Regions from separate parts of the Homo sapiens genome. Here region 1 is linked to region 2. The links come from fine-mapping of genetic effects on gene expression. A gene starts in region 2. The other region holds a variant in brackets. All regions are shown on one strand. Distances are from middle to middle. Region 1 has its middle 71 kb from the start of HOXA1. Region 2 holds the start of HOXA4 (homeobox A4).

The links. PIP is the estimated chance that this variant, and not a neighbour inherited with it, causes the effect. A credible set is the group of variants that fine-mapping cannot tell apart.
Region 1: its variant is the best candidate, but not a certain one, in a credible set for the expression of HOXA4 in whole blood (TOPMed, PIP 0.70).

What each region holds. Positions count from the first base shown.
Region 1 is chr7:27,021,851-27,027,226 of GRCh38, forward strand. It overlaps the pseudogene TPM3P4. Among named protein-coding and RNA genes, the nearest start is that of HOXA1, 71 kb to the right of the region's middle. The variant T/C (reference allele first, on the strand shown) is at 3,127.
Region 2 is chr7:27,127,490-27,132,865 of GRCh38, forward strand. It overlaps HOXA4 (homeobox A4), which reads right to left and starts at 3,268. Exons shown (of 2, transcript NM_002141.5): 1 at 2,629-3,268; 2 at 1,036-2,082. The coding sequence starts at 3,244. The coding sequence ends at 1,736. The region is part of intron 2 of HOXA3 (homeobox A3); the gene reads right to left. It overlaps HOXA-AS2 (HOXA cluster antisense RNA 2), which reads left to right. Exons shown (of 4, transcript NR_122069.1): 4 at 711-1,271. RefSeq lists a silencer at 3,426-3,495.

The sequences.
Region 1 (5,376 bases), 110 kb before region 2:
AACTGACTTTATAGTCTAGCTGAAGAGAGAGAGGAGGGCAGAAAAATAGAGTCTTATGACAAAGTGTAAAGTGCTATATAGCATGTTCAGCATTATAGCACTATTGTATTACAGCATATTATGGAACCACAAAAGAATAGAATGCAATCCAACCTTGCAAATACAATAATGGCCTCCCTGAATAAGTGAGAGGTGTTAGCGGTGGGGAGAAGGTATAGAAATTAACCAGGTAAAGAGGGGATTGATGAATGTCTCAATTAGAGGGAATCCCATAAGCAAAGTCTCAGAGGTGCCTGGTAATATGGTACATCTGAGAAAGAACAAGGAACTACTGGTGAAAGCAAGTAGATGTCTGGAATAGGATGCTGATGCCCTGGTAAGAGAAGAAATTTAAGACATTCACAAAAGTAATCCATTCCCAGCTGAAAGTGGAAAAAAAAGCCAACGTATTTATTTGATTATTTCAGTTAAAAATAAAGGTTTTTTAAATTTTATTTGGCTTCACTTTATGAATGCTTTGAAACAAAATTTTAAAGTTTGAATTATCCAAATTCAGTATAATTGCTTTAACTTGCTATTGCATTCCGCAAATGGGAAAATAGGGTGAATGATGAAAAACACTAAATACACACGGATGACATGGATACACAATGAGTGAGGTACATAAGGAAACTTTTTACCAGTGATCCTCAAACTTCAGTGAGCACAAGTGGACTACTTTAAAAGCCATTTTCTATCTTTCATCCTTGAGACTCTGACTTAAAAGATCTGTGGTGGAGTCCAGGAATCTGAATTTTTAACAAGACCACAAATGATTCTTTTAACTATTTGCAATAGAAATTTTAAACCTAAACTAAATTAGAGAGAATACTATAACATCACCCGCATACTCCTCACTCACCTTCCATAAATAAACATATGGCCAGTCTTGTTTCATCTACATTGCCACTCATTTACCCTTCATCCTAATTTCTTTTTAAAATAATCCCAAATATCTTGACATTTTATCCACTAACACTTCAGTTTGTATCTCTAAAAAGAATGAATATTTTTAGCATTATCACAATACAATAATCACACCTAAAGACCCAAGGTGATCCTAATGTAACTGGTCCAGTCTCAGAAAAACTGGACTTGAGAAAGAGGGTAACAAGTCAGTGTCTAAGTGGACTACTTGGGAAGACATAACTTAATTTAGTTCATCATAGATTCAAACTCTTTGTTCAAGAACAAGCAAGCTATTCAGTTATGTTTCTGAAACTGTTACCTTAAATATTCAAAAAATGTATTTATGGAAAGCATAAAATTAACATACTGAATTGAATTAAAAAAAACTTTTTCAGGGTTATTGATCAAAATTTTTAAGGAAAAAGAAGTTGTTTTGTTAAATACATTTTTACACCTTATCAAACCTCAAAGAGGAAAGAACAAATTGCTCAATTTGCTTTTCCTCCAGAGTTACTTGGATTTCACAGAGTTTAAAAATATTTTTCTCAATGAACCTCAGAAAAGTTTCTCAGAGTAATGAAGAACACAAAATGTGCCCTGATAACTTCCTCACAATTTAATTAACTCCAAATGCTAAAGAATCTTGCTATTTATAATCATATCTATAGAATACAATTTGAATATCAAGGTTAGAGAAATCTGATTCCTTCAGTCATACTTCAGCTCCTTTCTTTTACCTGCTTTATCATCCCCAATCAGAACCAATATTTATAAAGTTCAAGTCAGTATTTCCTTGACATTTTTATCTCCTTTCATCTGTTGCTTTAAAAACAAAAGGGAACAAAACTTAATACAGAAAAATAAAAGAAAGGAGAAGCAGCTGCAATGCTGAGCAGAAGAGGCAGGAACCAGAACTGGAGCAGTAGCTGGGTCGGCACCATGGCTGGGATCGCCACCATGGAGGAAGTGAAGTGCAAGATCCAGGTTCTGCAGCAGCAGGCAGATGATGCAGAGGAGAGAGCTGAGCGCCTCCAGTGAGAAGTTGAGGAAGAAAAGTGGGCCGGGAACAAGGAGGCTGAGGTGGCCTCCTTGAATCGTAGGATCCAGCAGGTTTGAAGAGGAGCTGGACCATGCTCAGGAGCGCCTGACCACTGCCCTGCAAAAGCTGGAAGAAGAGGAGAAAGCTGCTGATGAGAGTGAAAGAGATATGAAGGTTATTGAAAACCAGGCCTTGCCGAGGCCCGGGAATGGCGTGACCCCCGGGAGGCGGAGCTTGCAGTGAGCCGAGATCGTGCCACTGCACTCCAGCCTGGGCAACAAAGTGAGACTCCGTCTCAAAACAAACAAATAAAACCAGGCCTTAAAAGATGAAGAAAAGGGCCCAGCGCAGTGGTTCAAACCTGTAATCCCAGCACTTTGGGAGGCCAAGCCAGGCGAATCACGAGGTCAAGAGTTTGAGACTATCCTGGCCAACACGGTGAATCCCTGTCTCTACTAAAAATACAAAAAATTAGCTGGGCGTGATGGCACACGCCTGTAGTTCCAGCTACTCGGGAGGCTGAGGCAGGAGAATCGCTTGAACCCAGGAGGCGGAGGTTGCAGTGAGCTGAGATCGCGCCACCGCACTCCAGCCTGGCGAGACAGTGAGACTCTGTCTTAAACAAACAAACAAAAAGATGGAACTCCAGGAAATCCAACTCAAAGAAGCTAAGCATATTGCAGAAGAGGCAGATAGGAAATATGAAGAGGTGCCTCGTAAGTTGGTGATCATTGAAGGAGACTTGGAATGCACAGAGGAACGAGCTGAGCTGGCAGAGTCCCGCTGCCAAGAGACAGATGAGCAGATCAGACTGATGGACCAGAACCTGAAGTGTCTAAGTGATGCTGAAGAAAAATACTCTCAAAAAGAAGACATATATGAGGAAGAGATCAAGATTCTCACTGACAAACTCAAGGAGGCAGAGACCCGTGCTGAGTTTACTGAGAGATTGGTAGCCAAGCTGGAAAAGACAACTGATGACTTGGAATATAAACTGAAATGCAACAAAGAGGAGAACCTCTGTACACAAAGGATGCTGTACCAGACTCTGCTTGACCTGAATGAGATGTAGAACACCCCAGTCCTACCCTGCTGCTGCTCCTCCCTTTGTCCCTGACTCCACCTGAGGCCGGCCTGCC[T/C]GAAGCTGATCTTTAACTGAGGGCTGATCTTTAATTTGGGGGCTGCTTTCTACTTTCGCAGCCCCCTCCTTCCCTGTTTCTTTTTTGCCAAACTGTCTCTGCCTCTTCCTGGAGATTCCAGCTGGGCTAAAGGCTGAGCACCTTTGGAAACAACATTTAAGGGAATGTGAGCACAATGCATAGTGTCTTTAAAAGCATGTTATGATGTGCAAGTGTCTTTAAAAGCATGTTACGATGCGCACATTTTGTAATTACCTTTTTTGTTGTTTTGTAGCAACCATTTGCAAAACATTCCAAATAATTCCACAGCTCTGAAGCAGCAATCTAATCCCTTTCTCACTTTCGGAAGGTGACTTTTCAGCTAAATGCATATTGCCCTCTCCATAGAGGAGAGGAAAAAGTATAGGCCTGCCTTACTGAGAGCCAAACAGAGCCCAGGAAAAGACTCCACTATGAGAAACCTCGTTGCTCTGTACAAAATACCAGCCAAACCAGAAAGGTGATTCCAGGAGGAGTTAGCCAAACAACAACAAAAAAAAAACAAAAAAGATATTTTAAAGCTGAAAACCTGGCTGGGTGCCGTGGCTCACGCCTGTATTCCCACCAGTTTGGGAGGCCAAGGCAGGTGGATCACGAGGTCAGGAGTTTGAGACCAGCCGGACCAACGTGGTAAAACCTCGTCTCTACTAAAAATACAAAAATTAGCCAGGCGTGGTGGCGTGTGCCTGTAATCCCAGCTACTCAGGAGGCTGAGGCAGGAGAATCACTTGAACCCAGGAGGCGGAAGTTTCAGTGAGCCTAGATCATGTACTGTACTCCAGCCTGGGCGACAGAGTGAGACTCTGTCTCAAAAAAAACAAAGAAAGATATCTTTGGACAACGTTATTTCAAATTTTTTTCATTAGAAGTGACCAAATTAAGATGGTAAGACCTCTGAGACCAAATTTTTGTCCTCCCAACTGCTTACAGAATGGATCACGTGCCCCTTAGGTTGAGGTGACTACTTAATTGCTTTCCTACCTTCTTGAAAGAAAGAAAGATTATGTTTTCGCCACTGATTTAGCCATGTGAAACTCATCTCATTAGCCTTTTCTGGGTTTGAAGTTGCTATCTCTAAAAGTGCCATCTCATTGTGCTTTGTATCAGTCAGTGCTGGAGAAACCTTGAATACCTTATATACAAAATTTTTTTAAATTTTGTATTATTTTGAAACTTTGCTTCCTTGGGTTTGTGGCACCCTGGCCACCCCCATCTGGCTGTGACAGCCTCTGCAGTCCGTGGGCTGGCAGTTTGCTGATCTTTTAAAGTTTCTTTCCCTACCCAGTCCCCATTTTCTGGTAAGGTTTCTATGAGGTCTGTTAGGTGTACATCCTGCAGCTTATTGGCTTGAAATGTACTCTCCTTTGATGTGGTCTCTTTGGGGCCGATTGGGAGAAAGAGAAATCAATAGTGCAACTGTTTTGATACTGAATATTGATAACTGTCTTTCTGATATAAAAAACCAGTCCCTCCAAAACAACACCTGAGTTTATAGCTGAATATCAGAAGCAATATTAAGTTTTCTTTCTTAACCACGCAGATCAGAAAATCTTTTGCAACATTAACATTTTAAAATATCAGGCTGAGCACAGAGGCTCTTGCCTGTAATCCCAGCACTTTGGGAGGCCAAGATGAGAGCATCACTTAAGCCCAGGAGCTCAAGACCAGCCTGGGCAACATAGGGAGACCCCATTTCTACAAAAAATAAAAAATTAGCTAGGTGTGGTGGCATGCAACTATGGTCCTAGCTACTTAGCACGCTGAGATGGGAGGATCGCTTGAGACAAGGAAATTGAGGCTACAGTGAGCCATAATGATGCCACTGCACTCCAGCCTTGGCAACAGAGTGTGACTCTACTCATCTCAAAAAACAAAACAAAACAAAAAAAACTTACATTTCACTGTCAATCCCTAAAATCACATTTGTGTAACACTGGTGTAAATTATATATTTGCGTTTTTCAGCTATATTCCATTTTTTAAAGTACAGTGATGATCTGTGATAGCTTACAAGCTATTTCTTATTTATCAACAGTATGAAACCATGAATCCATATCAAAACTATGACATAAAATCCTACATATGTGATTATTAACCTTAGAATGCCTAAGATGAAACTGTTCCTTGATACTGTCATTAAAAGAAGCATTTAATAAAGTACTAAACATCACATGTTTAAGGTATTTAATTTCTTTTTTAAACTCTTTACCCT
Region 2 (5,376 bases):
CTCTGATATTGCAGAGGCAGGTGAGCACTTACTCCCATCTATGCTAAAATTACTACATTACTTAAAAGTTGCACTTTTTCAAGGCCAGGTGACAGTTCTAATATTCTGGGGCTAGTGTGCACAGGTTTTTGTGGTCTTATTGTAGGGAACTCCCTGCAGTAAGCATCAAATCTAAATCAGTAAACAAATACTAGGGTTATAGAGATCGAGAAGTGGGTTTTGATTTTCAGCCTTTTGGATCTAGATCTCTGGAATCGAGCAGAAAATTCACAAAGCATTTGAGGAAAGTGACCCAGTTTGGCTATTTTCCAGCAGTAAACTCTCCCAGGTCTACTTTGCATGGGGTGAACTTTAGGGGTATATTATGCTTTTTCCTCAGAAGAGACATTGGAGAGTGTACTTGTAAAATTCAGTTTATTTGAAAGCTCTTTCTTCAAAAAAGAGAAACAAACAAGCAAACAAACAAAAATTCCCAGTCTGTAGTTAGTGAAGAGGACCTTAAGAACAGCCAGGAAACAAAAACTAATCTCAACCCTTTGCACAAACTATTTTTTATCTCCTGGGAAACAGGCAGATTAAGTGTGAAGGTGCAACAAATACCAAATACCAAAGAGACCACTTCTTTCCAAGTGTGCTCAGAGTTCAGTGTGTAGAACAGCTGCAGAAACTCCTGGGCCCACAGCACTGCATGGTTTCAACTTTCATTGCAGGGAAGGACACGTTTCTATGCCTTACAGAGACTTGAAGCCTGAAAGCCTGGCCAAGTTTGGGAAGAAGAGGAGCCCTCTCAGAGCTCAAGAGCCTTCCTACTCTTTGGAACTTTTCCACAGTAGGCCAAGCTTGACAAGAGTTCAGCTCAAGTTGAACATACATACACACACTCTCACACACAAATTATGTGAGCCGTCAGAATCCAAGTGAATCCAGCTCAAGCTATCTACAAGGTTTTTACATGCAAGGTCAAGTATCTCAATCCAGAGGACTTTTGTTTTCTTAATGAAAAGCTTAGAAAACACATGAATCTTAGATTTTTAATGTTTTTTAAATGGAGTTTATTCTTAGCACATGGCTTTCTATGTAGCCACATCACAATTTGTACAGTTCCACATAAGTCTAAATGCACTCCCCTCTCCCCAAAGACCGTGCCCCAGAAGGGGACAACAGTATCTCTGTAACAGTGTCTTAAATAAATGCAAGTAAGAAAAACTAACATGTCACACCTACCATCAAGGTCTACACATCTTAAGAATTAAATAATCTTGTGAGGTCCACAATGTCTACTCATTTATTCAGTTAAATACAAGCTTGGATGAGCTGCCTTAATGGGGGAAGAGGAGGTAAGGAAGGTGGGGAAAGGGTCTGTCTTCTTCTGCTTTCAACAAAGATGCAAGTGTATGTCCCCACTCAGCATGGGCTGTCCAGCTAGCTGACTGTAGCCATCTCAAAAGTATTTGATACCAAGTAGTCCTTCTCAGGTATCCACACCTGGCAGCCTTGTTTCGGGCCAGCAGGTTGTTCCACCAGCCAGCATCCTGGACAACTGTTCTCTCTTGGGTGGCAACCAGCACAGACTCTTAACCGGATAATGTCTTCTTTTTGATTATTCTTTTCACCAATTTGGGTTTGTTTTGGTGTCTATTATGGTCCAGATGGGGAGGGGTGGATGAGGAACGGAGCAGGAGAAGAGAAGAGAAAAGCAGGTAAGGGATAGAAACTGGTTAAGATCTCTAGAAGATTATATGGAGGAGGGAACGGGTGTGGAGGTGCTCGGGTGGGGGTGGGGATGGAGGTGTGGGCTCTGAGTTTGTGCTTTCCCTGGTGGGCCGGCAGAGGCCGAGGCCGAATTGGAGGATCGCATCTTGGTGTTGGGCAGTTTGTGGTCTTTCTTCCACTTCATCCTCCGGTTCTGAAACCAGATCTTGACCTGGCGCTCAGACAAACAGAGCGTGTGGGCGATCTCGATGCGGCGCCGCCGGGTCAGGTATCGATTGAAGTGGAACTCCTTCTCCAGCTCCAAGACCTGCTGCCGGGTGTAGGCGGTTCGAGAGCGCTTAGGCTCCCCTCCGTTATAACTGGGGTTAACTGAAAACCCAGAACCCCGAAATAGAAGGCCAAGGAGGAGGGAGCGGAAGAGAGGGAAAGGAGGAGGAGAGAGAAGGTGGGGTGGGGAAGAGCAATTGGACATCATCATTATATAATAACCTGACACCAAGTTCACGCAAGATACATAAAACGGCAAAGAAAATGTTTCACAGGCTATTGACAACGGGAAACACCCGAGAGCCATAAAGAATGGTGCTGGGCATTGGGGCTGAAGAAAAGCTTCAAAGACACATGGCCTGAAGCCTCTGCCAGGGCAATTAAATTTATGGGGGCTATAATTACTGCCCTAACAGTTTGGCGTCTCGTAAATCTCCTGATAAAGGGACCCTGGGTACAAAAGGGTTCTCATGTTGGGATCAGGCGGCTGGCTGGCGCGCACATACCCACATCTCACCGCAGCCCGGGTCAGATGGGGGCTCCCCTCCCGAGGCCCCCTTCCCCTGAGCCTCTCCCTCCTGACCCCGACCCTCGAACCCAGGCCCAGCCCCGGCCCACCTCCCGCGCCTCCCAAGCGGCGCCACGTACCGGCGCTGACATGGATCTTCTTCATCCAGGGGTACACCACGGGCTCCTTGCCCTTCAGGCCCAGCGGGCTCTTGTCGGCCAAGAGCAGCGGGCACGCGGGGGCGCTGCCCCCTGCCGGGACGCCTGGGGTGGCGGGGGCCGCCTCGCAGCGCCGCGGGGCCGCTGGGGGCACGGCGCGAGGCTGCAGGGGCGGCGGCAGCTGGGGCTGCAGGACGTGGCTCGCATGCAGGCCGTGCGCTGGGCCCTTGGCTTGCGCCGGGGGCTGCTCGGGCTGGGGCGGCCGCCCGGGGCTGGCGCCGCCGCGGTAGCCATAGGGGTAGGCGGTGTCCGCGGCCCCATGCGCGGGGTACAGCGCGGCAGCAGGGTAGGCGGGCTCGCGGGCGGTCCGCGGCGCGTAGTAGGAGGCAGTGGGCTCTCGGCCGCCGCCCGCGTGAGGGAGCTGGGGCTGCTGCAGCGGCAGGTGCTGGGTCGGGGGCGCTGGGGGCTGCTGGTAGCCGGGGCCCCCGCCCGGGCCGCCGTCTGCGCCGCCCGAGCCGCTGTGCTGCGCGTACTCCTCGAAGGGAGGGAACTTGGGCTCGATGTAGTTGGAGTTTATCAAAAACGAGCTCATGGTCATTAATTTGTGAAGTGCAAAAATACTAATTTTTCTCGCGTTGTCGTTTTTTCTGGGCTTGCCGAGGCCCCTCCCCCTCCTGCCTCGCTTCCCATCCCCCTTTCCTCTGCGCCCTTCCCCTCCCCCCGCTGTCAAGTGCCCACTCCTCCCCCTCCCGCAGACGCCGCCACCAAAGTTCGAGCCGCTCCTCCCCAGCCCAGCGCGCGCCCCGCCCCGTGCCCCACGTGCAGCGCCCCCACCAATGGGCGCACCGCGCGCGCGGACCCGGATCAGGAAACGCGCGGGTGCGTGATGGATGCTGCTGTCCGGCCCCTGGGCTGGGGGAGGGAGCAGGAGCTTTGGACCCCAGCCCCCCAGCTTTGGTTCCCGCTGGGAATTCAGGCCCTGTCAGGCTGTAGGTCCTCTCGGGAGCCCTCTGCCTGCCCTACTGCTGGCCTAGGCCTCGGGCTGTCTGGCGGCCGCGACTCAGCGCTGACCTCGGGCGCAACCCAGTCAGGCTTCGTGTCCTTCAGGGGTTCTAGGCTAACAGGCGAAAGGAAGGGCGTTGGGACCGAGGGGCATCCTGGTTTTTATGTACGCCACTGAGAGGCCACCAGACACATTTTCTCAACCGCAGATCCCCCTTCCCCACACCCTGCTCCTTGCGTGTCAGCCTGAGAGCCCTTGCTTTGAGAAGCTTGGCAGAAGCTGCAAAGGGTGGGCGGGCAGCTAAGAGAAATCGACCCAAGGATGTAAATCGAGGCCATTCCATTATAACTGGATGGACACTTTTCATTTTTTCCTTCTTTCAGAGACAATCTGTTTCGTGTTTTCCTAAGAAAAATTGGAACCTTCGTAATAGCATCTAATTTGACGGGGGTTGTCGATGTGAGAGCTAAATATGCCCGCATTTACTAGGTGCGATTGTGAGAGAGAAGGTGGCCCAAGGATGGGAATGGATAGAAGCAACACCTCCACAGAACCGAGCTTTGAAAACAATAACTTCCTATTTCAGAACTATCCCCAAACAAAAACAAGCTAAGGGTAGAATAAACACCTTGCCGGGTCTGATCGCTGATGGGTCTTTTCCAGCTAAGAATTTCATGTTTTCTCTTTTAGATCCTGCTTTCTCAGGCAGTATCTGAGGCTAGAGTTATATTTGCAGGACAGTCTATAATTTCTGAATTGCTGAAAATTAGCGTATTAACGATATCAGAAGCTCCGGAAAGGAGGGAGAGGAGACTGTTGCCTGCTATTTGGTAATTGAAATTTGATGGGTACACTAATTACGCCATTATTAACAAATAAATTACTTATTAATTCCACCTAATGTTGATCTTTGAAGTAAATACTGATGCCTTATTTGTGCTGTGTGCTTTCTCCCTTTCTTTTCTGAGTAGTAGACATATCTAGATCCTCTACTTTTCAGCCTAAATTAAAGCAGTGTAAACTAGCATAGTCACCATTCTAAAAATATTTTCATATTGGCATGCAAAAGCAAGGATTTTTCAGCTGGTGCACCTTAGTTGATTTTTCAAAGAGCAGTATAAACAGCCTTCTCACAACTGAGTCTGGAACGCAGACAAGGAAAATTATTTCCTAAGCCTGGAGACACTTGAAAAGGAATGTCAATTCTATCTTCATTCATACTGGTTACTCATATGAGTTACTAAATGCTGGAATATATCCATTTGATGGATAGTCACTTAATGCTTAGCCACATAAAGCCTATTATATGGGACTAATCTTTAAACTAATTTAGGAAAAGAGGTTAAAAAGGGGATCATATTAGCTTTCTAACTGGAATCACCCTGAAGAGGTACAAAGAGATTTTCCACGTTAGGTGTATATGAGTGTGAAGAGTGCTGTCCATTCACATGAGGCACCCTGAAAATTTGTTTTTAAAGAAATTTGAGCCACAGACAGAAATCAACACTGAGTGTAATCTTTAGCCATCCTCTCTAGACTGGAGGAAAAATTTAGAATGTGATACATCTACCTGAACCAATATCTCTCCCTAGCAAGAAAAAATAATATACACATAGGTTATATAAAATGTAATATAAATAATATATAGACATACGTATTACAAATCTGAACCCTATAAGTTTCAGGGGGACAAAAAGCATGACAAGGAAATCTTCCCTCCTTCTCAT